4 linked regions of the Homo sapiens genome follow. The protein of the gene in region 3 purifies or fractionates together with the protein of the main gene of each other region. This does not show direct contact. Each region holds a gene or a part of one and is shown on either strand. Other genes may lie near its edges. The genes, in order: NDFIP1, CD320, ARMH4 and BMPR1A.

Evidence for each region.
Region 1: the proteins of ARMH4 (region 3) and NDFIP1 purify together in Homo sapiens (affinity purification with mass spectrometry; 2 studies listed by BioGRID and IntAct, with this or other methods). This does not show direct contact.
Region 2: the proteins of ARMH4 (region 3) and CD320 purify together in Homo sapiens (affinity purification with mass spectrometry; 2 studies listed by BioGRID and IntAct, with this or other methods). This does not show direct contact.
Region 4: the proteins of ARMH4 (region 3) and BMPR1A purify together in Homo sapiens (affinity purification with mass spectrometry; 2 studies listed by BioGRID and IntAct, with this or other methods). This does not show direct contact.

The regions. Positions count from the first base shown.
Region 1 is NC_000005.10:142,132,771-142,139,795, reverse strand, and holds part of NDFIP1 (NEDD4 family-interacting protein 1), read right to left. Parts: intron 4,067-7,025; coding exon 3,979-4,066; intron 2,063-3,978; coding exon 1,938-2,062; intron 1-1,937. UniProt on the Homo sapiens protein: Activates HECT domain-containing E3 ubiquitin-protein ligases, including NEDD4 and ITCH, and consequently modulates the stability of their targets. As a result, controls many cellular processes.
Region 2 is NC_000019.10:8,305,335-8,312,628, reverse strand, and holds the start of CD320 (CD320 antigen isoform 1 precursor), read left to right. Parts: upstream 1-4,270; 5' UTR 4,271-4,338; coding exon 4,339-4,480; intron 4,481-7,294. Other genes in the region: NDUFA7 (NADH dehydrogenase [ubiquinone] 1 alpha subcomplex subunit 7), read left to right, coding at 1,034-1,124. UniProt on the Homo sapiens protein: Receptor for transcobalamin saturated with cobalamin (TCbl). Plays an important role in cobalamin uptake. Plasma membrane protein that is expressed on follicular dendritic cells (FDC) and mediates interaction with germinal center B cells.
Region 3 is NC_000014.9:58,128,200-58,135,224, forward strand, and holds part of ARMH4 (armadillo-like helical domain-containing protein 4 isoform 1 precursor), read right to left. Parts: intron 5,143-7,025; coding exon 4,891-5,142; intron 3,523-4,890; coding exon 3,313-3,522; intron 1-3,312. UniProt on the Homo sapiens protein: May modulate immune response and may play a role in inflammation. Down-modulates STAT3 signaling throught direct interaction with IL6ST, resulting in the inhibition of phosphorylation of STAT3 at 'Tyr-705'.
Region 4 is NC_000010.11:86,759,594-86,766,618, forward strand, and holds part of BMPR1A (bone morphogenetic protein receptor type-1A isoform 3 precursor), read left to right. Parts: intron 1-7,025. UniProt on the Homo sapiens protein: On ligand binding, forms a receptor complex consisting of two type II and two type I transmembrane serine/threonine kinases.

The sequences.
Region 1 (7,025 bases), on a different chromosome or scaffold from region 3:
TCCTCTCACCTCAGCCTCCTGAGTAGATGATACCATTGCCTTCTTTCTAATGAGGCCTGATTTTCTTCCTACTCCTCCAGCCTTGTCTTGACTTTGGAAGCTTTATCATGTATACCAGGGTAATCCCCTTCCCTTGCTGGTTTAGGAATGGGCACAGGATGCCATTCTGACCAGTGGAAATTGAGGGCTTCTGAGAAGCTTTCCTTGCTTCTCAAAGAAAAAAACAGTTCTTTCTAAAGGTGGTAGAAAATTTTTTTTTAAATAGTTCTTTTTCTTCTCTTGAGCACTGTCGTGTTTCAATGTAATACTGATACGTGAAACTGCCATCTTTTAACCCTGAGGGGAGGGGGGACCTGTGCCAATATGCTGATATGTCAGCTGTCCTTGATGATGTCAAAGAACCACTGACTTAACTAACCTTGTCAGGGACTTGTTTTCAGGGGAAATAAAATTTCCCCGTTTAAAAAAACAATTAAAAATTTTTTTCTAAGCCATTTTGAGCTAGGTTTTTGTTACTCACAGTCAAAAGCATCCTACCTGATACAAGTTAATTCATTTAACTTTTTTTTTTTTTTTGAGAAGGAGTCTCGCTCTGTCGCCCAGGCTGGAGTGCAGTGGCACGATCTCGGCTCACTGTAAGCTCCACCTCCTGGGTTCACGCCATTCTCCTTCCTCAGCCTCCCGAGTAGCTGGGACTACAGGCCCCCGCTACCATGTCTGGCTATTTTTTTTGTATTTTTTTAGTAGAGACGGGGTTTCACCATGTTAGCCAGGATGGTCTCGATCTCCTGACTTCGTGATCTGTCCGCCTCGGCCTCCCAAAGTGCTGGGATTACAGGCGTGAGCCACCGCACCCGGCCCATTTGATTCACTTTTTAAATGCAGTTGAAAATTTAGTTTGAAAAAAAAAAAAGACTGGAATTAATTTTATTTCTCTTTTCCTTGGAGGCTTTGGTGTCCAAGAGTTTAATGTAGTTCGAAAAGTAAAATATAGTATTTTCTTTGTTAATAAAGTAACAATTAAAATTTAGGGAAGGAATGAAAACCTCTTTAGGGCTCGAGTTCTTAACCTAAAGTCCATTATTATAGATGAGTACATATTAGCTATGTGGGGGAAAAGCTTACAACTTTCATCAGATTCCCAAAGGATTCTGGAACCCTAAAAACGTTAACAAATGTTTTATAATAAATAAGGTGGCACTACGTAGAAAAACTACAGTGGTCAAGCAACACCCATTAGTTAGTTAAGTATGCCAATTTATGACGGATAAATTGGTTTTGTTTATAAGGTTGACGATAGCAATAAATTTATCTGAAATCAGAGGATACTTTAAAAGCCTAGATCTTTTACAACTGTAAATTACTTCATGCAAATTTAACTAACTGGTAACTCTGAAGTCACTAAAGACATACATCTCTGTAATTTACTTGAGAGGTAGGCTCCTAATGGAGCAATACTTGTTAAACAGTTTTGGCTCCCCAAACATTTTGGCATAAGCAATCCTGGAAGGGAGAGGGGAAGAGAAGGAGAAAAGAAAAGAAGGAAGAAGAGAGCTAGATTAAAACTGTAACAGAATTAATGAGAGGAATGGCTGCTTTTGATGAGATATCAAAGGGGTAATATCCTTCCTTTTATTATAAAAACAACTAATTTCAGAACATATACATTATCATATTATAAACATTAAAAACAAACAAAGCAGATGGTGAACAATATTAATGATAGACCAGTTTTCAATAGATTTGACAACAAAACTTGTGTGCATGAACCATTTGCAAATGATTTTGGTTCAGCTTCATCATGAAACCACAGACAAACCAAAAATCATTTAACACACTGAAATAACTTTTAAAAAAGCAAATGAAAAATCGAATATTCAAAAATATTCTGATTATTGCCTCTCTGTAGAGCCCATCTTTTCTGTTATACAACTTACCCTGACAATCAGGATCCATTTAATTAGAGAGAGACCAAATCCTGAAATGGCCCCATACCTTCCTGCAGCTGAAGTGGTCAGGCAAAAAGACAGGAAAAACCCAATCCAGTTAAAGAGGAATGCCACTGCAAAAGCAGAGGAGGGGAAAGATGTTAGACATGTCCTGTTACCCAAGAACAAGAGTGCCTTACACCTGCCTCTGTTTAAATGACTTTCCAAAGGATAAAAGACAGCCTGTCCTCCACAACCGTCACCATACCTCCTCTAAAACATCCATTCTTCTGTCTTTCCCCAAAAAGCAAACAAGAAAAACTCCTCCCTATCAGGTTTTACACACTTATGTCTACTGCTAGTCACTTTCAAAAACGCCTTAATAGGCTGAGCACAATAGCTCACATCTGTAATCCTAGCACTTTGGGAGGCCAACGTTGGAGGATCCCGAGCCCAGCAGTTTGAGACCAGCCTGAGCACCACAGTGAGACCCATCTCTACAAAAACTGAAAAAAACAAAACAAACAAACAAACAAACAAAAGCCGGGCACAGTGGTGCACACCTGCAAGTCCCAGCTACTTGGGAGGCTGAGGTGGGGGGATCACTTGAGCCCAGGAAGTCAAGGGTACACTGAGAAGTGATCACACCACTGCACTCCAAATTCAGCCTGGGCAACAGAGCAAGACCTTGTCTCAAAAGGAAAAAGCAAAAAAAACAAAAAACAGCAAAAAGCAAACCTTAACATTCACCAAACTGTATACTTACAACCTCTGCTTTTTTTTTTTTTTTTTTTTTTGAGACTGAGTCTCACTCTGTCACCCAGGCTGGAGTGCAGTAGCACGACCTTGGCTCACTGCAATCTCTGCCTCCCAGGTTCAAGTGATTCTCCTGCCTCAGCCTCCCGAGTGGCTGGGACTATAGGCGTGCACCGCCAGGCCCGGCTAACGGCTAATTTTTGTTTTTAGTAGAGATGGGGTTTCTCCATGTTGGCCAGGTTGGTCTTGAACCTCTAGCCCCAGGTGATTCGCCCACCTCAGCCTTCCAAAGTGCTGGGATTACAGGCATGAGCCACTGTGCCCAGCCTTTGACCTCTTTTTTTTTTTTTTTTTTTGAGACGAAGTCTCACTCTTGTCCCCCAGGCTAGAGTGCAATGGTGCGATCTCACCTCACGGCAACCTCTGCCTCCCGGGTTCAATCGATTCTCCTGCCTCAGCCTCCTGAGTAGCTGGGATTACAGGTGCCTGCCACCACACCCAGCTAATTTTTGTATTTTTAGTAGAGATGGGGTTTCACCATGGTGGCCAGGCTGGTCTCGAACTCCTGACCTCAGGGCATCTGCCTGCCTCGGCCTCCCAAAGTGCTGGGATTATAGGCATGAGCCACCATGCCCAGCCTGACCTCTGCTTTTTACTGTGTGTGTTATATATATATAGTCCAGTAAATAAAATAAATGCCTTCAACATTAAATAAGTGCCCCCAAATAATCTGATTCAAGTCACTCATCCTCCTGTTCTCTGAATTTTGACAACTTATATAACATCACCTCTAAAAGCATTGCATTTTCTTATCTTTCTAATACAACAAATAAAGGAAATGGTTGCTCACTTCTATGTGAGGCACACAAAAAGATAAATGGCAAGTAACATGAAGGGAGAAAATCAGGCTGACTTTGATCTGTCAGAAAAAAGAAGCTTTCAGAGCAAAATTCATCAAAGGCATTTAATTCCTATTCTACAGATTAAGTATGAGTAGAAGCAACGCAAAAGGGCCCCGTAGACCTGGAAGATGAGGCTTAGCTCATGTAAAAATGCAGCATCCTCATAACTGCTTTAATTATATTTTCCACAGATATTCATGAAAATAGAAGGCAAAGAGAAGGGATATTAAAACAAAGGTATATTAAGCTTTGAATATTCCAGTAAAAGGCACCAAATAAACATAATGTATTAATATATTAGCTCAACTAGTTATTTTAATTCAGTCAGATTCACCCATAATCCAAAGCACTCTAGTTTGTAGGGGGTGGTTCTGATATGCATACATACTTACTGAAAAAAGTTAACATGAAAATCCCATCATTTCCTATCCTCAGCTGGTCAGCATCATCAAAATCATCCCGACCCACAAAATCCTCATCCTAAATGAAAAGAAAAAGAATTATTTCTAGGCAAAGGGAAGACATAAAGAAAAATGAAGGGTTAAATTTGAGTAGCAAGGAAAAAAGTTATTGCTTTGGTTCAGTTCAAAATTATGAGCATTAAAGGCTCAATGTGTGTTTAAAATTCCATTTTGCATTATTAATATATAATTAGAAAAGAAGCAAATCTTTCTTCTATCCCCAGTGTTCTAAATGAAATTTTCATCTTATAACCCAAGTTCTTTAACAATACACTTCAAAAATTTAATACACTTCAAAAACAATACACTTCAAGAATAGTTCACAAAGAACTATTTACTCTTCCTTTAAAAAAATATACCTCAAGAAAAGACAAAAGACAAAATTTACTTACACATTTGGTTTAAATTCTAGAATATCAGTAATCGAGGACCTGTTTAGGACCTAAAATATTAGTAATTAGAGATAAAATCAGCCAGGTGCAGTGGCTCATGCCTGTAATCCCAGCACTTTGGGAGGCCAAGGCAGGCAGATCACGAGGTCAGGAGATCGAGACCATCCTGGCTAACATGGTGAAACCCGTCTCTACTAAAAATACAAAAAAATTAGCCGGGAGTGGTGGCGGGCACCTGTAGTCCCAGCTACTCGGGAGGCTAAGGCAGGAGAATGGCATGAACCCGGGAGGCAGAGCTTGCAGTGAGCCAAGATCCCACCACTGCACTCCAGCCTGGGCAACAGAGTGAGACTCCGTCTCAAAAAAAAAAAGATAAAATCAACCAGCTCAAGTGCTTTACGAGGCTGATATAGGGGAAAAAAGAATAGTACGATCATACATGAATAGTCCACAGAACTGCCCACTGCTCAACTCCATAAGCATGTATTTGTATTGGTATACAGATCTAAATCTCACTTCTAACCTTATCAGCAGATAAGATCTTTTCCATCCTAACTTGATAACGTAATATTGCAAAACTAGAAATAACATGATCATGAACAATACCAACACATGTGGGCTATCTTTTTAACTGATATAGGTGTGTGTTGAGATATTTAAAAATAATTGAATATATACTTAAAAGTGATAGATTTGTACACAGTTCAATGAGGGCTCCTTAAATGAAAAATATTTTAGGGAATATCAAAACTTGTTGTACACAGAAAAGGGTCTGGAAGACCCAAATTGTTAACAGTGGTTCCCCTGGGGAGTGGGAACTAGAGAAAGGGAAGTCGGTGGCAATGGCAGCTTCCTTTTCTAACTTAACATACTTCCTCTATTGTTTGAAATTTCTATAAAAACGAATTTTTATAATTAATTTTTTAAAACATTAAATACCTAGTATTCTTACTTCGTATCAGCAGAATAAGGTTTTGCCAAAATTAAAAGCTAATTGTTTTTTGCATAACTATTCAAAGATATACTCCAAAAAATATATGGAAGTAACATCTAATAATATTACGAACACCTTCTAACTGTTCTTCCTGTCCTCTTGGTATCTCTTCTACCATGATGCATCCTAGAAATTGCTGCCAAGTTAATGTTTCCAAAACACCACACAAGTCCTCTCATACCCCTGCTCAAAAACTCTGAAGGATTCTCTAAAAGCTACATATGAAGTTTAAATACGCCCATCTAACATTCCAAAGATTCTATAAACAACAGTTGTAGTCAGGACTTTCTATCTCCCTTCACAAACTCTTGCTCATACAAAGCCAATTACTACATCCACAGAACTGCCTTCACCTGGCTGAATTCACACCTGCTTTCTGTGCCTTTTTCCCTCTGGAATGTTCTTACCCATCAAAACTCCGGGCCCACATCAAATCTCATTTTCCCCTATGATCACCCAGTAAAAAGTTTCAGTTCTTGATGCCCACTGCTCTTATGTGTCTTAGTTATCAGTATTTGTGGGCCCTTTACCCTAGTTGGATTTTAGGCTTTTGAATAACAATGAGGAACACTGCCTTATACAAAGCTTTTTACCTATCCACTGTAAAATATACTGCATCTTATATTTAAAAAGTGCTTTATACATGTCTGCTGAATACTAGAGCCCTTTAAGAAGTTCCTAAATATGTACTTGTATCAAATGAAAGTATTCTGAAGAGTTATGTGATTAATCAGAGCTAATTTCCATACTGATCTATTTACCATATATTGCAACAGATCTGCAGAGTACAGTGAAACAAACAAGGACTTTGGATTCTAGAATATCTGGGTTTGACTTTCACTTCTGCTACTTATCAGTCATATGACTTTGGGAAAATTACTTTTTCTCTCTGGACCTAAATTTTCACATCTGTAAAATGGAGATAATATAATCTCTACCTTTCAAGGTTACTATGAAGATTGGAAACAATATACAAAATATATAAAAGCATCAAGCACAGTACCAAGCATGTGGTTTGCTTCCAATATACGGCAGTTACATTATGATGGTCTTGCCCTTAGACACTAGGGTTTTTAGTTTCTCCCTGGTACCTGTAAGAACTGAATGCACATCATCGCCATTTAGGATCATCCTAGATTGGGCTCATAAACTATTTCTACCAAGCAATGATTTTAGGAGCTTCGCTCCTCACAGTAGGTGTGGTCTGCAAACTGTCTACTATCTTAAAGCCAAGAGGGGAACATCTGGGCCTATGCCATCACACTGCCCAGACTAGGCTTCTGTACTTGCTCATCACTCACTCCAGTTACTTGCTAGAATAGAGCCTAGAGGCCTGATGGTCCCCGCATTTCTGGGGACTTATCCTGCTTCCATTCTCCCACAATGCCCTACCTTCATCAGCCTCAATCTGGATGAATATTTACAAAATGACAAATGCAGCACTCACATATCTGACATCAAGAACCAAGAGTGCCCAATAATCTCCACTGGTTTATATGGCATCCCAATCTCCACCTCCATGAATCAACATCAGGCTAGATGGAATCTGAACTCACTATGTCCCCACAAATGACATGATCTGGACTGCTGGA
Region 2 (7,294 bases), on a different chromosome or scaffold from region 3:
CACACCTGTAATCCCAGTTACTTGGGAGGCTGAGGCAAGAGAATCACTCAAGCCTGGGAGGCGGACGTTGCAGTGAACTGAGATTGTGCCACTGCACACCAGCCTGGGTGACAGAGCAAGAGTCTGTCTCAAAAAGAAGGAACTCAGTGGAGTGGTCCTTGTTGTCACCTTCTGATTCACTGGAGTCCAGCACCAGAGTGTGGCAAGATACCTTGTTCCCACACAGCCCCTTGCCATGCCCCCAGAGATGTGTGCATTTCCCAGGGAGGCCACTTCTGCCTTTTCCATTTCCTTGAGGCTCCTGGGAGGTCCTGTGCCTCCACCCCTGGGGCGCCTCCTCCATCACCCCACCCTCCTGCTTCCTTTCTTGCTTAGGCTGTGAAGTGTGTGAGCTCCACAGGCTCAGGTGGGTGGGGTGAGAGGGGAGGGTGCTCGTCCTGGACTTGCCGGCACAGGGTCTCCTGGGGGCTCCCTCTTGGCCAGCTCTGGGCCAGAGATGCGTTTTGCAGTTGCCATTTGCGCATGGATTCTCAGCCCCACCAGCCTGAGTCTTCCTGAGGGCGGTGCCCCATCTTCCTGGCTCTGCGCCCACACAGTAGCGCCTGCCATGCAGTTCTTGCCCAGTCTGAGGCAGGAATAGCTGGAGGCCATTGTCACCTGATCGCTTGGCCCTTTTGCCAGCATCCTGTTTTGAGGGGCAGCAGGAATGGGGGTGGGGGCCTTGTGTACGCTGGAGACCAAAAGTGGGAAGGGAGGAGCCCAGCTCTCCACAGTGGGTTCTGGGCCTGGGGGCCACAGCAGGGGGTTCATACAGGGCTCAGGGGAGAGAGGAGGCTTGCTAGCTCCCACCTGGCGTTGGCTGATCCTCTGAGGGGCTGCGTTGGAGGGGTTGGCATTCTGGAACACCCTGCTGTCTGTCCTGCAGGTCCAGAAAGTCCCTGTGGGTGTGTTTGTCCCGGGGCAGGTGTGGGCTCCCTCAGATCTTTCCACACTGTTCTTTGGAAACCCTCACTGAAGTCTTTCCCTCCTCCAGCTCTGCTGTAGCTGCCACTGAGAAGAAGGCGGTGACTCCAGCTCCTCCCATAAAGAGGTGGGAGCTGTCCTCGGACCAGCCTTACCTGTGACACTGCACCCTCACGGCCACCCGACTACTTTGCCTCCTTGGATTTCCTCCAGGGAGAATGTGACCTAATTTATGACAAATACGTAGAGCTCAGGTATCACTTCTAGTTTTACTTTAAAAAATAAAAAAATAGAGACAGAGTCTCACCATGTTTCCCAGGCTGATCTTGAACTCCTGGCCTCAAGCGATCCTCCTGCCTTGACCTCCCAAAGTGCTGGGATTACAGGCATGAGCCACCACACCTGGCCTGATTTTATTTTTATTTTTTAGACCTTCCCACTGAGGCCTCTGCTTGACCTTGGTCACCCTGTAGCTCAACGGGGAAGGCAAAGGACAGTGAGGGCTGCTTACAGGGAAGGCAGACCTAGGGCAGATCAGGAAAGGCCTCCCTGAGCCAGAAACCATTATGCTGGGGCTGTGGGATGAGAATGAGTTAGCTCCAGAAGGAAGGCAGCTGGTTCCTGGGGAGGAGATAGAAATCTGGCTGCAGGAGCCAGAGTTTTCGCGCTTGTCACCCAGGCTGGAACGCAACGGCACGATCTCAGGTCACTGCAACCTCTGCCTCCTGGGCTCAAGCAATTCTGCCTCAGCCTCCCGAGTAGCTGGGACTACGGGTGTGCACCACCATACCCGCTAATTTTTTTTTTTTTTTGTAGAGATGGCCAGGCTGGTCTCAAATTCCTGACCTCAGGTGATCCGCCCGCCTTGGCCTCCCAAAGTGTTGGGATTACAGGTGTGAGCCACCACGCCTGGCCCCTGATTTTAAGCAATACCCAGCTTACTTGGATTTTGGGGTGAAGTCAGTGCTGAGTCTCCCAACTCTGTTGGCACTCCAGGGGTGGGACAGACACTGTCCCTGGGTGCAGAGGCCCTGGAGACAGCACTGCCCTTTCCCCCAAAGGCCAGGCTCTGACCTTGAGAGTGGTGGGAGTGGGTGATCCTTCTGGGAGGTTGGACTCCCAGGACCGCTGGCTGTTGGGGAGCATTGATTGTGAAGACCAGTCAGGTGGGGTAAGGGGTGTATGTGCGGACACTCAGTAGGCCAGCCACAGACTTCTCACTTCTTTTTTTTTTTTGAGACAGAGTTTCGCTCTTGTTGCCCAGGCTAGAGTACAATGGCGCGATCACGGCTCACTATAACCTCTGCCTCCTGGGTTCAAGTGATTCTCTTGCCTCAGCCTCCCGAGTAGCTGGGATTACAGGCGCCTGCCACAAGCCCAGCTAATTTTTGTATTTTTAGTAGAGACGGGGTTTCGCCATGTTGGCCAGGCTGGTCTCAAACTCCTGACCTCAAGTGATCCGCCCACCTCTGCCTCCCGAAGTGTTGGGATTACAGGCGTGAGCCACCGCGCCTGGCCTAACTTCCATCTCTTGAGGGCTCCCACAGCCACTTCTCACATGAACCTTCCTCAGCACCTTCCCACTGAGGCTCCTGCTTGACCATGGTCACCCTGCAGCTCAACGGGGAAGGCAGAGGACAGTAAGGGCTGCTCACAGGGAAGGCAAACCTAGGGCAGATCAGGAAAGGCCTCCCTGAGCCAGATCCCATTATGCTGGGGCTGTGGGATAAGAATGAATTCGCCCCAGAAGGAAGGCAGCTGGTTCCTGGGGAGGAGACAGAAATCTGCAAAGGGAGGGTGTCCAAGTCTGGCTGCAGGAGCCACCCAGTGACCCTACGCAGGGGAGTGTCATGGCTTCCCCAGGGCACAGCCCCAGACCCTTCAGCAGCTAAAAAAGATCAGCTGTGGACCAAGAGGGTGCTGAGACCGCCCTGCCCTCTGGAAGGGGAAAGGCCACGGCTACAGGCAGCAGGTACCAGTGTCCCAGAGTGGGTCCTACAAAGGCTAACACCTTCCTGGAGAAGGTGGGATTCTGCTTGGGGCAAAAGGATGAATCAGATTCAGAAAGGTCAGGAGGGAAGGAAAGACTAGGCAGGGTGTGCAGAGGCCACAAGGAGGGCAAGACCCTAGGCAAGGCATGCCGCTGACGGCATCTGAACCAAGTTTTATGACCACAACTTTTTTTTTTTTTTGAGACAGAGTCTCACTCTGTCACCCAGGCTGGAGTTCAATGATGTGGTCTCGGCGCACTGCAACCTCCGCCTCCCGGGTTCAAGCGATTCTCCCATCTCAGCCTCCCTAGTAGCTGGGACTACAGGAGCATGTTACCACACCCGGCTAATTTTTGTATTTTTGGTAGAGACGGGAGTTTTACTATGTTGGCCAGGCTGGTTTAGAACTCCTGACCTCGTGATCCGCCTGCCTCGGCCTCCCAAAGTGCTGGGGTTAACAGGCGTGAGCCAGCGCGCCGGCCAACTTTTCTAACAAATGGGGTCTCACTGTCACCCACGCTGGAGTGCAGCCCCAAGTGATTCTCCCACCTCAGCCTCCTGAGTAGCTGGGACTACAAATTAGAGCCACCATGCCCAGCTAATTTTCTTTTTTCTTGAGGCGGGCGGGGACTTGCTGTGTTGCCCAGGCTGATCTCGAACTCCTGGGCTCAAGCGATCTGCCCGCCTCTGCTTCCCAAAATGCTGGGATCACACACGTGACCCACCGCGCCCGGCCTTTATTATTAAATTTAATTAATTAATTGATTTCCTTTCCTTTTTCCCCCCCAAGCAACCCGACTCCGAGAATGGACGTTTCATTTATTCATTTACTCACCAAATGTTTACTAAGAGCCTACTATGAGTCAAGCACTATGTGTCAGATCCTGAGAATAAAGCAGTGAGCAACAGAAGATCCCTGCCCTCCAGTAGCTAGCATTCTATGGGGACTCGGACAACAAACCAGAATAAGTAAATAAAATAAATTACCTGTCGGCGCCACAAAAGCAGTGGGATGAGGGAGGAAATGCGGAGTGCCTGAGGGGCGTGGCTGCCATATTAAAGAAGATCACGAGGCAGTAACATTTGCAGCAGTCCTCATTTGGAACGGGAAATAATGCAAATGAACACCAACAAATTCCTTCCCATCCCCAGAAGTTTCTAACTTCAAGCGGGCTCCATACCTTTCAACTGATCTGGTCACTGGGGAAAGTGGGGACGGGCCTCTAATTCTCTTTTCCCTGCTATTCTGACATTTACGGTACGCGTAGCCGCGGGCGCCGCAGAACTCAGGGGCTTGGGCCCCGCCCCAACCCCGCGCGTGCGCGTGCGCAGGGATAAGAGAGCGGTCTGGACAGCGCGTGGCCGGCGCCGCTGTGGGGACAGCATGAGCGGCGGTTGGATGGCGCAGGTTGGAGCGTGGCGAACAGGGGCTCTGGGCCTGGCGCTGCTGCTGCTGCTCGGCCTCGGACTAGGCCTGGAGGCCGCCGCGAGCCCGCTTTCCACCCCGACCTCTGCCCAGGCCGCAGGTGAGTGACGCCCCGCAGCGCGGGCTCCCACCCCTCGCGAGGCTTCGCCCCGCCGCCGCGCACCGACAACGCCTAGTCACTGGCTGCACCGCACGTCAGTTCATGACACTCCCCCAGCACGTGGACTTGGACTTCATCGCTTGTGGGAAGGCGCGCACTGGTGCTAGGAAGACCCCATGCTGGGGGAGGGGAGGAGGGTGTCTCCACCTGCCTTTAACGGTTTTGCTCCGGCCCTGCACACCGTCTCCACACCTGCTGTGCCCTGTCGTCCCCCATTGTCACCTCCAAGCCGCCCTTCATACCAGCGTGGTCAGGAAAGCTCTTAGCAGGCTCAGATTGTCCGACCGCTAATCACGCAGGACGGGTCACCTGGTGCCTCTCGCACCTTTGCCTTCCAAACCCTCGCGCCCAGGCCTTGTGACCGTTCCGCAACCGTCCCTGCCCTCCCAGTCTCTCCTCCTTTGTCCTCCATCCTTAGAGAACGCGAGGTCTCTCCCCCCCATGCTACTGCAGGCTCTCGCAGAGACTGGGGTCACAAGTTGAATATACCCCCGTGGACGTGTTCGCCCTGGCCTAAGAGGTATTGGTGGCCAGTGGGGACGGGCTCCCTCTCTGATACCCCTAGAGGCAGCTGGAGGGTTGGAGTGGCCTCCCTGTGCACTCAGGCACTCCCAACTTGCAGCCCTGGGCTCAGGCTCACACACTTTCCCAGCTCCTTTGTGCATTCCGCACTTCTAGGTCCCTGGACTCATCCCAAAGTCCCTGACATTCACGTTAAATGTTCCTGGGTTTTTTTTTGTTTGTTTTTTTTTAAGGAGGCAGCGTTCACGTTAACCAAGTACAAAAGTTTTTGTTTTTTTTTTTTTGAGTCTCCCTCTGTCGCCCTGGCTGGAGTGCAGTGCAATGTTGGCTCACTGCACCCTCCGCCTCCCGGGTTTAAGCAATTCTCATGCCTCAGCCTCCCGAGTAGCTTGGGACTACAGGCACCGTCACCATGCCCGGCTAATTTTTGTATTTTTAGTAGAGATGGGGTTTCACCATGTTGGCCAGACTGGTCTCGAACTCCTGACCTCAAGTGTTCTGTCCGCCTCAGCCTCCCAAAGTGCTGGGATTACAGGACAAAACTCTATACACAGTCTCTTTTTTCTCAGGATGTTGAGGTAGGGATTCCCAGCATACCCCGTTTACAGGTGAGGAAACTGAGGCCAGGAGAGAAAGTCACTGGTCACTGTAACTCCTGTCAGGCTTACACCCTATGAGGCGGGGACTGCTGTGCTCTACTGTCCACTTTGCAGAGGGATACACACTCCCGCAGTCCAGCGAAGGGAGGTCAGAGGTGTCAGGGCTGTGGAAGTCTGCGCCTGGGTGGAGAGCCACACCTGGAGGCTGCCAGATCTCCCGGGGGCGGGGAAGGAAGCAGGCACCGGTTTGTCCACAGCTCTTCTGGGATCCATAGAGCTCAGGGACCCTGTGGCAAGTAGGTGCAATTAGGCCTGAAGGCCGAGGAGGGGCTGGCAGTGGGGAGTGGGGGGTTGGAGGCTCATGGCTGGTGGGTAAAGGTGGAAGAGGTTAAAGGCCTTGGCAGAGTGAAGCTAAGCCAGGGTGGCGGATTTGCCACCTCCCCTGGCCGCACCCAGGAGGAAGCCGTAAAGGCCACTCCCTTCCTCTGTCCCTTGGCCCAGGTTGCGGGCCCCTCCGTGCCCCTCCAGGTCGGCAAGCAGCTGAGCTTCCCTGCTCAGAATCTAGGACAGCCGGGATCTTCTCTGGACCCAGCTTGGACCCTTATGTGACCTGTGTCCACTTATAATCAGGCACTGCCCTGGGTTTAGGCGGCCAGGTCACAGCCCTGACCTCCACAGAATGTCCAGTCTGTGGGTGGACAGGCATGACCAGGGCTTTAAGGACAGTTGTTAGACATGGGAGGCAGTGCTTCCTAGGTCTCCAAGAGGGACATGAGAACCCTCCCAGGAAATCAGCTGAGATCTGAAAATTGAGGGGAAAACACAGGGTGTAGGGAGGAGAGAGGGAAAGGCAAGTCTCTGGTGTCCTAATGGACCTTGGGGCCTGGGGCCTGGGGCTCTGGTGAGGAGCTGACACATTTAGGATGGGGAGAGTGATAGGTCTGGGAGGAATTCAGGAGGCGGGGCAACAGGACTTGGTGACTGAGCAGATTTTCTACCCAGTGCCTCAGTTTCCCACCCACTGCCTCAGTTTCCCTTTTGCTACGCAGAGGAGATAGACCCTCCCTGCTGACCTGAGCCCGGGAGCCTGACCCAGGGCATGTGGAAAAATGGCCCGTCCCTCAGTCTCTTTAACCACTGAGTTTGGAGGTCTCCCTGGCAGATCATCTCGCTATGAGGAGCCTGGTGAAGACTCTGGGATCAGCGAGACCTGAGTTCGAAGCCCAACTCCGCTACCAGCTCTTTTTTTTTTCTTTTTTGTGGTGACGGAGTCTCGTTCTGTCGCCCAGGCTGGAGTGCAGCAGTATGATTTCGGTTCATTGCAACCTCCATCTCCCAGGTTTAAGCGATTCTCATGCTTCAGCCTCCCGAGTAGCTGGCATTACAGGCGTGCACTACCACGCCCGGCTAATTTTTGTATTTTTAACAGAGACGGGGTTTCCATGTAGGCCAGGCTGGTCTCGAACTCGTGACCTCAAGTGATCCACCTGCCTCGGCCTGCCAAAGTGCTGAGATTACAGGCGTGAGCCACTGCACCCAGCCTCTGCCACCAGCTGTATGGCCTCCTCTTGGTTCCTTTCTCTGTAACCTGGGGAGTGCAGTAGCACCTGCCCAGTGGGGCTCTTGAGCCCAG
Region 3 (7,025 bases):
TATTTTAAAGAGTTAACCCACATAAATTCCAGGTATGTTTTCAAGACTAATCAGAAATTTTAAGTTGGCATTTTAGAGCAGGAAAGACATTAATATTCAACAAGAGAAGAAAATCAACCTATACAAAGATCATGTCCAAAAATTAATTTATGCAGTTATAAAATATGTATAAAATTTGTCATTATCCCATTTTGAATAAAAAGAACATGTTTGTTATGTTTGTATTTCAAAGCTGCTAAATACAGCCCTCGTAGAGGTATGCCTGAAATGAGTATAAGGCATTTATCATTGTGAGAATATTTATCCCTAAAAAAAAGTCATACATAGAAATCAAATGTAACAGGCAAGGTGAAAAATAAACCATTATCCCTTCAAAAATCAAACTGCATTTTTGCTGACAAGATAAAAGACACTGAAATATGCACAAGGTGGCAGGCACTTATCAAGGCAGGCTTTCTTCAGTGACTAAGAAAAGGAAAACACACCAAAACTTCTCCCACTCTACCAATTCACATCACTCAGGTAGCACGTCTGTCTTCACAGACAGCTGGCAAACTCTTCAGAAGCAGACCCCTGTTACATGTTGAATTGTGTCCCTCAAAATGGTATGTTCAAGTCCTGACCGGTAGTACCAGTGAATGTGACCATATTTGAAAACAGGGTCTTGGCATACATAATTAACATGAGGTCATTAGGATGGGCCCTAATCCAATGACTGGTGTTCTTAAAAAGCAAGGAAAACTTGAGCACAGAGACACAGACGGCCATGTGAATAGATTGGAGTCATGCTGCCTCAAGCCAAGGAAACCCTGGGGTTCCTCCCCTAGAGGCTTTGGAGAGAGCAAGCCCTGCCTATACCTTGACTTCCAACTTGCAGGCTCCAGACTGCGTAAGAATAAATTTCTGTTGTTTTAAGCCACCCAGTTTGTGGTACTTAGTTATGACAGCCCTTGAAAACTCATACCCCCTCTCAGTCATCATGTTGTAGAGATGTGAGAAGCAGGGAAGAAGACAGGGTGCAAGTAGACATCATTTTTAGACTGATTTGGGCTGTTAGTTATCGCTTAAAGGATAAACAGAGCTGCGGATTCAGAAATTTCCATAAAGGTTCATTCTTCTTTGGTGTCTAATGTCTAACAAAGGATGTCCCTTTCCAAATCCCATGGAGAAAAGTACCTCATTTCCCAGAGAAATGCTCCTGCCCCCTAGTGAAAAAGGAAGATATTAAAATAACATATAAACTCATCACAAAGACTAAAACAAGAAAGGCTGCTAACCTGACGTAAGTAATACAGGGTTCTAGATAAGAAAAAAAATTACCTGCCTCTAGGCATAAGCTTATGGAAGAATTAAAATGTTTCACCCAGTCAAAGCTTCAAGCTGCACTTATATTCCCGGGCAAGGTAGAAAAACATGCATTGAAAATAGAGGCCTCCAATACATCCAGGAGTCTAGTAGGTTGATTTGTTTAAATCAGTGTAGTCAATTCAGCTTTTGGAGGACTAGAAGCACCAGCATAAAACTAACAATGGTATTATTAACGTATACTAATTAAACATAAGTTGTACTCCTTGGCATTTACGAGTAAAAATGTGCTAATTCAAAATCCTAAGCCCGACAATGTAGCAAAAATAATATCTTTTGACCAAAAATATTTTTGTAACCCATGACAAGGATAATTTAGATCAAAAACTAACAAAATATATTATCAAAAAGTAGCAAAATTGAATTGTGTAGAAGAAAAGAACTAAAACCCCAGGACACCTTAGGCATGTCGGAAAATTCTAACATATTTCAATACAACTGCCATCATCTACTAAATTTAGAAAGTTACTGCAGTTTCACAAGTATGGATTATTCACAAATATTTTTTTTCTCTGATTTAATGAGCCCTGCTGGGTAAAGCTGTCATGTCTAACTCAGGTTAATTTAGGGAAACCTGCTTTTTCCAGATGGCATCAAGGAGAGCAGACAGTTTATATGAGACGCTAAACTCAAAGTCATACAGTATTTATCTTAATGTGGAATGCAAGAGCTGTTAGCCTTTGAGCCCACTTTGATCTGTTTCTTAAACCAGGCTTCTACTGTGGAATTCTCCACACTGCTCCTAAAATGTCATGTTCCTCTGTCAGCAGCCAACCAGTGTTACCCAGAAAGTCTGCACCAGAGTCAGCTGCAAACCTAGCTCAACCTCCTTCCCTTCGCTTTAGACAAAAAAAAATAATAGCACATCCTATGTCTCTTACTGCAGCAAACACATGGCTAATTGAGTGCCCAAAAGCTTACCAGTGTTCCAGATTAGTTTAAGAAATTCTGCACTATAAATCTCTGGACATTTTGTATCTCCAGCCAGGAACTATTCACCTGCCAAAATGCTGATTAATTACGTGACTATGTGTCATATTTCTAGTCTTCTTATTTGTTGATAGGCAGCCGTGCCTCAAGTTTCTTTTACATGCTCAAAGCCAATGTCTTGGAAAGTACAATTTGGCATGAATTTCTTGGTCTTAGTAAATAAAGAGACTGCCTATCTCCAAATAGTAGCACAGACTAACCCAGAGATGTTACTAAGGGAGAATAACCCAGCATTAACAACCAGAGCAATGCTGTTAAAATACACCCCACATTAAAACTTGCAACCAAGAAAATCTGGTGGGGAAACTCAACATCTCCATCTTAACCTAGTATTCTCAATCCAGCTTGAATACTGAAATCATCTAAGGCAGTCTTTTAAAATGCTGATGCCAGATTCCACCCCCCACCATCTTAATCTCAATCACTGGAGAGTGATTCAGGCACTGGGATGTTTCAAAAGCTCTCCAAGGTATTTCTAATGGTCAACTATAGTTGAGAACCACAGATCCATAGCACAGTCAGCAAACTTGCTCTATAAAGGGCCCTATCATAAATGTTTCAGGCTTTGTGGGCCACTGAGTCTCTGTCACAGCTTCTTAATTCTGCTGCTATGGCACAAAAGCAGCCACACACATATGAAAATGAATTAGTATGGCTGTGTTCCAATATAGCTTTATTTATGAACACTGGAATTTGAATTTTTATAACTTTTCTATGTCACAAAATATTATTCTTCTTTTGACTTTTTTTTTCAATCATTTCAAAATGTAAAAACCATTCTTAGCTTACAAACCATTCAAAAACAAGTGGCAGGCCAGATTTGGCCCAGCTGTAGTTTACTGTCCTCTGATCTATACTGCAGATTGAATATACTCCTACTTAATTCTTTTTCAAAAACATTTGCTCAGTGACTCACTCAACCAGTCCTTGAAAAGATCCCCTTCAAAGCATGAATACCTTCAGATTCAAGTTGGTCCAGGCCATATGAGGCAGCTGTATTAACACGAGTAATAGATGGAACAACAGTTCTTCTCTCAGAGGATGCCTCCAAAGCAGGAAGTGCAGGGGAAATGCTGGGTTCCCCCACCATTATTCCAGGAGGTGTCACTGGAGATCCCAGAACTGGTGTGAACTCCTCATTTGGCCCTGTGACTGTGTCCATTTGTTCTGCCAAACACAACAGACAGGACTTGACCCACAAGATAATCATTATGGCAAATGTAAGCATGTGCTTTCACTTTTTAGGCAAGAAATGATTAAACCAATATCATACAATACAGCAAGTTTGGCACTTGGGTCAGCTCTCCTTTCCCATATTGTATTAATCCAACTCCCCAAAGCAAAGACTTTCAGGAAAATGTATTGTCTTACAGGAAAATGTATTATCTCTAATCAGAACTTTGTTTTTAAATTTTAATCTCCCATTTATTCTATTGGCAATATTATGGATGTTGTAAGATTTTATATTATGTATTGCCAAAGGTAAAATAATTAACAAAAATATATTAAACTGTATTTCAAAGACTACTTTGGAAAGATCGAGTGTCTTTCTCAAAATCAAGTCATAGAGTAAGAGCCTAGATCTGGGTCTGGAATGTCAATTTAAAAGCAGCCAAATATAGCCCCAGGAATTCCCAAGTCCAGAGACTCTAGAACAGCAGTAGCTTTCACATAGATTTGAAAACTTCACTGCCTTTAAGAGATCAGAGCATTTGAGAGCCTCCTATATAGAAAGCACTTTGTAGACATGATTTCAAATTCTTAAAATAACCTATAAAACAGATAGGCATTATTTAGAGGTGAACAAACCAAAGCTTACAGAAGTTAAGAAACTTAGCTTGAGGCTACAATATTAGTGAAAGCCAAAGTTGCGATTCAAATTCAGGTCCATGCTTTTTTCACCTCATCCCCCCCGGCTCCTAGCAGCAGAGTTGCCAAACAGGAAGAGCCTTCTCAGGGGGTCTGGCCTTTGAGGACCCAGAGGTGAGCCACCAGGAGACCTTACTTACAAACTAAACCCTTGTCCCTTTTTTTTTTTTTTTTTTTTTTTGGCACGGAGTCTCGCTCTGTCACCAAGCCGGAGTGCAGTGGCGCCATCTCCGCTCCCTGCAAGCTCCGCCCCCCGGGTTCACACCATTCTCCTGCCTCAGCCTCCCGAGTAGCTCGGACTACAGGCGCCCGCCACCACGCCTGGGTAATTTTTTGTATTTTTAGTAGAGACGGGGTTTCACCACGTTGGCCAGGATGGTCTCAATCTCCTGACTTCGTGATCCACCCGCCTCAGCCTCCCAAAGTGCTGGGATTACAGGCGTGAGCCACTGCGCCCGGCCAACCCTTGTCCTTTTAAGGCTCTGCCACACCTCTTCAAACAGGACAGAGCTCACACCCCTTTCCAGGTAAAGGTGTGTGTGTGTGTGTACGTGCACGCACGCGCGCGCTGATGGCAATGTCGGCTGCCTCACTCATTCTATTCCTAGTCCACTTAACAGAAGAGATCCACCCCCAAAACAGAGTCCAATATCCTCCCTTACAGACCTTCCACAGTGGGAGTAACTTCAAAAGACAAAGGGACGACTGTAGTTGAAATTGTAGTGGCCAGAGGCTCCCATCTTCTTGACAGCTGAGTAACACCAGGAACGTCAGACACAGGAGAGGGGTCCTCCTTTTCTTCCTCAGTCTTGCCACTGTCTCTGATAAGCTCGAGGGTAGCAACCTGCTCTTGTGTCACCATGGATAAAGTGGCATCTGGCTCTTGAACAGCTGTTGTCATCTCTTGAGTGATGATGTCTTAAAGGGGGGAAAACATTTAAAAATAGACCAAATCCCTATTTTTTTAAAAAAAAAAAATCATGATATGATTAAAAACTTGGGGGGAGGGGAGCAGATGCTATTTCAGGAACTGGGGAAGCAAAGAGAGAACTCAGAAGTAAAATGACAGTAAATAAATGTTTTCTCTGTCACGCTTTCAGTAGTTGTGAATCAATCTACAACAGAGATAAAGAAGTTCATGGAAAAAGCTAAAATGAAATCTAAAACAAAGTAGGAAGATCAATTGCTGAGCTCCCTTTCAGGCACATGTTTGAATGTCAACATAATCAGTTTGTTAAGAAACAAGTTATACAGAACTAAGTTACACTCAAAAACTCTCAGAAACATTTGTATACAGTGTATTAATTTTCACATTTGCATTTCTGGAGGGTCAAGGGAAGCTCACATTTTAAAATAAAGGAGTAATAATTACAATAACTAATATTTACTGAGTTTCTATGTTAAACACCATGCGAAGTGCATGACATATAGTATCTTAAGTATGCATCCTCCCATATGTACTACAGGGAGATAGGTACTAATATCATTCCACAGAAGCTGCATCATAGTGCTCAAGAATGCAGGTTCCAGAGCCAACCTGCCTTAGTCACTTACTAGCTGTGTAAGCATAAACAAATTACTTCACATATGTGGGCCTTGAGTTTCCTCAGCTATAAAATGGGGATAATAATAGTATCTATCTCACAGAGTTACTACAAAGATTAGATAACACAAGTAAAACACCTAGTATTTGGTAAGTATTCAATAATTACCAGCTATTATAACTCCACTTTACAGAACTTAGGTTTAGAAAAGCTAAGGAGCATGCCTTTGTTCACATTGCCAGCACCCTTAACCACTGTACTAACTATGCCCAAGGAACACCTTGGAGAGGCCTCTGTAGAAGGTGTGCATTTGCTTTCAGATCAGAAAAGGAAATGAATAGAACTGGCAGGGTATGACATTATCTGTCACAGGTCCACTTGCTTTACAACATTATAATTCCCTCAAATACAGTATTAAAGACTGTTTATAATAATACTCTGCTTTCTCTTCAGATCATATAAATGTTTTGCCTTCAACAGACTACTTATAAGTCAAGATTTTCCCTCTTATGAAGGGGCTATGCTAGAAATTTCAAACACTGTACAGAGCAACTACTAAAAACTTAATTTCTTGAAAACCTTATTGTCTTTTTTAAAATATTAGTTCTAGATACTAAGTATTTTAGCAAGATCAGTAAGTTATACAATGAAAAATAACATTCTAGGGATAGCTTTAAAAGGGTTCCTCAAAGTTTTTATTAATGACAGGCCAGGCACGGTGGCTCATGCCTGTAATACCAGCACTTTGGGAGACTGAGGCGGGAGGATCACAAGGTCAGGAGTTCGAGACCAGCCTGGCCAATATTGTGAAACCCCATCTCTACTAAAAACACAACAAAATTAGCTGGGCATAGTGGCACATTCCTGTCATCCCAGCCACCCGGGAGGATGAGGCAGGACAATTGCCTGAACCCAGGAGGCGGAGGTTGCAATGACCTGAGATCATGCCACTACACTCCAGCCTAGATGACAGAGGGAGACTCTGTCTCAAAAAAAAAAAAAAAAAAAATTTATTAATGACATCATGGCATATCCTATTACTTTAAAAAAAAGTTGCCTTGTAAACAATGTATTTGCTTTAAAATAATGTGTATTTGTTTGTTTTTCACTATAAGCAGTTCCTTTTCTTGGTACTCATCCAGTTAACACTATTTTTCCTTTTGAATTGAAGAGATTTTTACATTTGATGGATTAATATACCTGGTTACAGGACAAACAATGTGAGTCAGGGTAAGGTTTTCACATGAGCTTCATATT
Region 4 (7,025 bases), on a different chromosome or scaffold from region 3:
GCTTTATGATATTGTAACTCTTCTGCTCTCTATTCTTGCTAACTGTGGGGCAATTCTGAATTCATATTGGTGTGAAGGTAGTAGTCAAATCATAAAACGAGTTGGGCAGCTTTCCTTCTTTTTCTCTTTTTCAGGATCATTTTAGACTGGGATTATCTGTTCCTTGAAAGTTTGGAAGACCTCCCCTATGTGACCATTTAGGCCTAGATCTTTTTTCTGGAGAGGACTTTGAGTAACACTTCAATTTCTTTAATAGCTGTTGGTTTGTGTCGATTTTCTGATTCTCATATGAATTTTAATGTTTCACATTTTTTTCAGGAATTTATTTTCAAATCTAGTGTTATTTGGCTTTCACGTAGTTCTCCCCCCACCACCCCGCGACTCCACCCCCACCCCCTAACTCTAAATCAAGTTCTCATCCCACCTGGACTAATGTTATGATTTTCTTGCCTTCACTTTTCTCCTTTATCTAATCTTATGTATTTCTGCCTAAATTAATCTGTAAGCCCAGTTCTTACCACTTCGCCACTCAGAAGTTTCCTAGGTCTTCCATTAAATGAAATATTTTCTGTGGTATTTGCCTCAGATTTACCTGTTTTTTTTTTTTTTTTTTTTTAATACCTTATTGTTTTTTCTTTCTTTCTTTCTTTCTTTCTTTTTTTTTTTTTTTTTTTTTTTGATACAGAGTCTCGCACTGTCGCCTGGGCTGGAGTGCAATGGCGTGAGCTCAGCTCATTGCAACCTCTGCCTCCTGGGTTCAAGGGATTCTCCTGCCTCAGCCTCCCAGGTAGCTGGGACCACGCCTGGCTAATTTTTGTATTTTTAGTAGAGGTGGGGTTTTGCCATGTTGGCCAGGCTGGTCTTAAACTCCTGACCTCAGTTGATCCGCTCGCCTCAGCCTCCCTGTGCTGGGGTTACACAGGTGAGGCACTGTGGCTGGCCTTTATAGCAGTTTTTATACAAATATTAGTTTCACTACTAGTTTGCAGGGTGGGTCTGTAACGGACTTTTCTTGCATATTAAAAGGAATAAATGGGGAAAGGCTCCTGTCTAGCCTAACAGTAGCTGTTGAACTGTCCTGATCTGACTATTGGATCTTAGGAGCAGCGAACCATGGAGAGAAAGGAAAATGGGTTTCCTATCACACTAAATTTTGAAGTAGGAACCATTTCTTTTCCTTTTCTACTTTCCCACCTTTTACTAGTTTTTAGGCTTTAGGATGTCTTTTTAACATCACAAGGTCCATATTGACCAAGTTGGACCAACTTTTTAACACAAGATTAAATGTTGACTTGCATTGAGTTATGTCCATTGTAAGATACACAGTAGTGTTACAGACCACTTAAAATATGCTTCTAGTTGTAAGAAGCCATTGATTGTAAGGTGCACCCCAATTCCGGAGATGCTAAAATATGAAAAATGGATGCATCTTAGAATTGATGAATAGTGTTTCTCTCCCTAATCAAAGCTCTTGGATGTGCCTGGAAATCCCCAGTAGTGTTTTTTGAAAAGAACACTAGTTAGGGGCATAGGGAGATCAGATGATCAGTAGACTCCATCTCAGGGTGGCCCCTGTGGTCCCTAAGCCAGTTCGTATGGGCAGTTTAATATATAACTAATGAGTAGACATTGAATAGATGAGTAAATTATCTTTGAGTATCTTTTATTTACTCTGATGTTGTAGACTTTGTTACTCTTTTATAGTTTTATATTTCTGATGAGCCTTCCTTTCTTATGGCACAGATTTGTTATACTGTTAAAGTCTGGAACAGTGGAGCTTGGCTCTTGATCCAGCTGTATATAATTGGCTGTTGACTTATGAAGGAGGACAGGAGTATGCTAGAGATAGGGATAAAATATTATAATCACATTTGCAGTTAGGGAGATTAGTTACATGTTGGAAAATCATTTTGAAGAAAGGAAGACTGAAGATGTTCAAACTTGTAGGAAGGTCTTTCTGGCCTAGCCCGGATTAAACCCATTTATGCCTAGTGTTCCACTATTGGAACGCTAAGCACGTGGGAGTTATTTATATCCTGCTCAAGGTCATCACCAAGGTCTGATTGCAAAAATTCAAAAAATTGCAGCCTCAGGCATAAATGGGTTAAGATGGTGGCAGATAATTAGGGCCTGGAATGGATAGGAGGCGATAACTAGCGTGGATGAGAGAAGGAATGGGATTGGCAAGAACAACTCCTGGATTTCTAGCTTGGAAAGCAGGGTAGATGTGGGTGACAGATATGAAAAATGAGGTGGGAGAGCTGGTTTGTAGAAGAAAATAGTATTGGATCACATGGAGTTTGAGATATCTGAAACAGCCAAGTAGGGATTTCCACTTGGCAGTTGTCTATATGGGTCTGGGGTTTGACAGAGGTTTGTGCTGGAGGTAGGCATTTGGGAGTCATTGCTGTATAGATTTTATATTCCAACAGTGGGAATTGGGTGGCTCTCTCAAGTGACTCTTGCTTACAAGTGACAGCCCTAACTCAAGTTAGCTTAAAGGAGGGAAAAGCTTCTCCCCACTAACCCCCATGATATTGAAAGGTCTAGAAATAGACATGGCTGGACCTAAGTGCTCAAATGATATAATTAATTGAGGTTGTCTTTTCTGTTCTTCACTTTTGTGGTCTCATTTCAGGCAGGTGCATATATCTGGCAGAGGAAGACATAGGTTATAGGTTATAGAATTACAGGTTATAGGTTATAGACCTCGTATCGAGAACTCCTTGTATGGTCTAGCAAAGAGCCTAAAACAGCATTGAGAATTTTTTTTCTTTCTTTTTGAGACGGAGTCTTGCTATGTTTCCCAGGCTGGAGTGCAGTGGTGCGATCTGGGCTCACTGCAACCTCCGCCTCCTGGGTTCAAGTGATTATCCTGGCTCAGCTTCCCGAGTAGCTGGGTTTAACAGGCGCCCGCCAATACGCCTGGCTCCTTTTTGTATTTTTAGTAGAGACAGGGTTTTGCCTCGTGGGCCAGGCTGGTCTCAACTCCTGACCTCAGGTGATCCTTCCGCCTTGGCCTCCCAAAGTTCTGGGATTACAGGTGTGAGCCACTGCGCCTGGCCAGTCTTGAGAAATTTCAACTTAAGGCCTGGGTAGAGAAGATAGACATTAAATAATTATCTAGTTGTAGTTATGTTAAGATCTACAAAAAGGAAGTCCAGGGAATGTTACAAGACTGATAAGGGAAGCTGGGCTGTTCAGGATGCGGGTACTTTGGAAGGCTTTCCTGAGAAAGGTAGCCCGCAGAGTGAGACCTTAGGCAAGAAAGGACAAGGAGACTGTTTTTGGAAGTATTCAGTAGTATTTATTTATTTATTTGAGACGGAGTCTCACTCTGTCGCCCAGGCTGGAGTGCAGTGGCGTGATCTTGGCTCACTGCAACCTCTACCTCCCGGGTTAAGCGATTCTCATGCCTCAGCCTCCCAAGTAGTTGGGGTCACAAGCGTGAGCCACCACGCCTGGCTAATTTTTGTATTTTTAGTAGAGACGGGGTTTCGCTGTGTTGGTCAGGCTGATCTCGAACTCCTGACCTCGTGATCCGCCCACCTCGGCCTCCCAAAGTGCTGGGATTACAGGCATGAGCCACTGCGCCCGGCCAGAAGTATTCGGTAAAGTGAGCAGTTTTTGCAGCTTTTTAAAAATTTTAAAGGCAATACATCTATTGTGGGTAATTTGGGAAGTATAAAAAGCCATAAAGAAGCAGCGGAATGATTAAGTTTCAGCTTCTAATTTTTTATAAATAATGTCTGATACTGGTTTTACTACTGAGTACCTATTCAATCACGGATGCCACACTAACCCAATCCGAATCTTCGTTTCTTTATCTTAAAAAATAGAAGGAACATGGTGAACTTTAAGATAATTTTTCTGCTTAAAAAAAGAAAAAGAAAGAAAATATCTTGACTTGCAGCACAGTTAGCTGCCGAAATTGAAGGTCATATAATGCTTTTGGTCCTAATGACATCACTGGACTTCTGACTTTTGGCTGAAGAATCACGCCAGCCTTGGCAGTCCTTGCAAGTACCAAAGGGAGTATGGCTTATGCCTGCGGTGCCCTTCCCGTATCCTGCTTTCTTACCTCCTTTTTTGAGCATTAATTTTTTTTTCTTTAGCCTTTGGGTAAAGTATCAAAATGTTGAGAAGATAGACTCTCAATTTTGAAGGTGAGAAATCTGTAGGAGACTTGGATAGTTGTTTTTTTTTTTTTTTTTTTGAGACGGAGTCTCGCTCTGTCGCCCAGGCTGGAGTGCAGTGGCGCATGTTGGCTCACTGCAAGCTCTGCCTCCCGGGTTCACGCCATTCTCCTGCCTCAGCCTCCTGAGTAGCTGGGACCACAGGAGCCCGCCACCACGCCTAGCTAATTTTTTCTATTTTTTAGTAGAGACAGGGTTTCACCGTGTTAGCCAGGATGGTCTCAATCTCCTGACCTCGTGATCCTCCCGCCTCAGCCTCCCAAAGTGCTGGGATTACAGGCGTGAGCCACCACATCTGGCTGACTTGGATAGTTTTGATACTGTTTTATGTATATTAAGATTTGTAGGTAGTTTTCTTACTAGTAATTAAAATGCTTTGTAATGTATTTCAAGAGTATAGGGTCTTGAGTGTTTTAAATTTGTATATAAGAATGTTTTAGATTCCTGGCTAAAAGAAGCTCTTGTTAGAAAATATTAAAGTAAAGGCTGTTAAATTTTGGTGAGGCTCTTAATGTCTGCATTTTTCAAGAATCATTTAAAAATGTCATGAAATAAAAATATTTCAGTGGTAACTGTTCAGAAGTATCTTAAATGTATACCAAATCAATGAAATATAATCGCTGGGTGACAGATTATTCTTCCTTCATTTTATAATCTTTTATTTAATAAAAATGTGGGGGAAAAATTGCATGTTGAAGTTGTACGTGTATATTTTAGCAAAAACTGTTAATCTTTCTGAAGTACTGCTTTGGTCATCATCCCTATTTGTTAAATATTTTTCCCTGTTTTCTTATTTGCTTACAATAGAAAATCCAGAATATCTTGGACTGGTCTCCTGCTCTGGCCAAGTCAGCCTTTTCTGCTTTGCTTCCTTTCCTACTATTTTATCAGCCTAAGTCACGTAAATATCCGATTCAGGTTTGGGTTCAGAATCCTTAGACCTCTACTGTCCACTACAATAGATAGCCACTACCACATGTGGCTGTTGAAGACTTGAACTGTGGCTAGTCTAAGTGTGAATTACGTACCAGATTTTGAAGATAGTACCAAAAGATGTAAAATATCTCATTATGCTTTTAAAATATTGGTTATATAGTGAGATGATACTGTTAGGGATACATTGGATTAAAGAAATATATTAAAACTGATTTTGGCCGGGCATGGTGGCTCATGCCTGTAATCCCAGCACTGTGGGAGGATTGCTTGAGCCCAGCAGCTTGAGACCAGCCTGGGTAACGTGGTGAGACCTTGTCTCAGTTAAAAAAACAAAACTGATTTCACAGGATTCTTTTTACTTTTTAAATGTGGCAACTAGAAAGTTTAAAATTACACGTCATATTGGACAGTACTGCCTTTGACTTTCCTTTCCCTGGTTCTTTGCCCATCAGAATGCTTTAAAATCTAGTATAAATCCTTGGCCAGGTGCTGTGGCTCACGCCTGTAATCCCAGCACTTTGGGAGGCCGAGGCGGGAGGATCACGAGGTCAGGAACTCGAGACCAGCCTGACCAACATGGTGAAACCCCATCTCCACTAAAAATACAAAAATTAGCCGGGTGTGGTGGCACGCCTGTAATCCCAGGTACTCAGGAGGCTAAGACAGGAGAATCACTTGAACCTGGGAGGTGGAGGTTGCAGTGAGCCGAGATTGCACCATTGCACTCCAGCCTGGGCGACAGAGTAAGACTCTGTCTCAAAAAAAAAAAAAAAAAAAAAAGAATATTCCTCTCTCTCCTATGAAGCCCTCCTCAGTGGTCCAAGCCTCATAGTTGGCTCTTTGCTGCATCATTATTTGAAGATAATCTTTTGGTATATTAGATTTCTTTACTACAAACCTTCTCAGAACTTTTAATATGCTAATACACATGGTGAAACTCTAGTATAGTTTCCCTAACTACGTATTACCATAGAACTGTGTGTTTTCTGTTAACAGAAGTTACACATATTTGTGGTTGAAATTTCAAACAATACAGAAATGAAGTAATGAAAGTCTTCTGTAATCATGCTTCACCTGTGCCCCAAGATTGCCACTGTTGAAAGTATAGAGCTAGAAAAAATTTTCTTTTCTGTTGCCTTCTTTCTTTTTTTCTGTCCCCATTTCCTAAAATGGGGTCATACGATACATCCTTATCTTTAAATTTATTTTCACTGAATATATAGGGGGATTCTTTTTATGTCAGTAAATTTCAATTTCCTCATTCTTTTTTTTTTTTTTGAGGGAAGGTCTTGTTCTGTTGCCCAGGCTGCAGTGGTGCTGTGGTGCAAACAGCTCACTGCAGCATCCAACTCCTGGGCTCAAGCAATCCTCCCATCTCAGCCTCCTGAATAGCTGGGACCAGAGGTGCATGCTACCATGCCCAGCTAATTAAAAAATTTTTGTGTGTGTGGAGGTGGGATCTCACCATGATGCCTAGGCTGGTCTCGAACTCCTGGGCTAAAGTGATCCTCCCACCTAGGCCTCCCAAAGTGCTGAGATTACAGGTGTGAGGTGTTGTGCGCAGCCTTAATCATCTCATTCTTTATAGTAGTTAAGCAGTTATTCCATTTTCTGATTATACCTTAATTTTACTTACCAGTTTCGTGTTAATGAATAATTAGATTATTTCCATTTTTTTCTTTTGCATTGCAAATATGCTGTGGTGTTTGTACATATCCTTTGAGACTGTTTTTATTTTATGAAATGAATTCTTAGAAATGCATTTACTATAAGAGAAGCCGTGCAGATTGGATGGAAAGTGCCAAGCCACCCTGCAAAATCTTCGTAACCATTCATATTCCAGCCAACAGTATTTGAATATGTTCTCTCCTCCCAACATAATCATATCAGTCT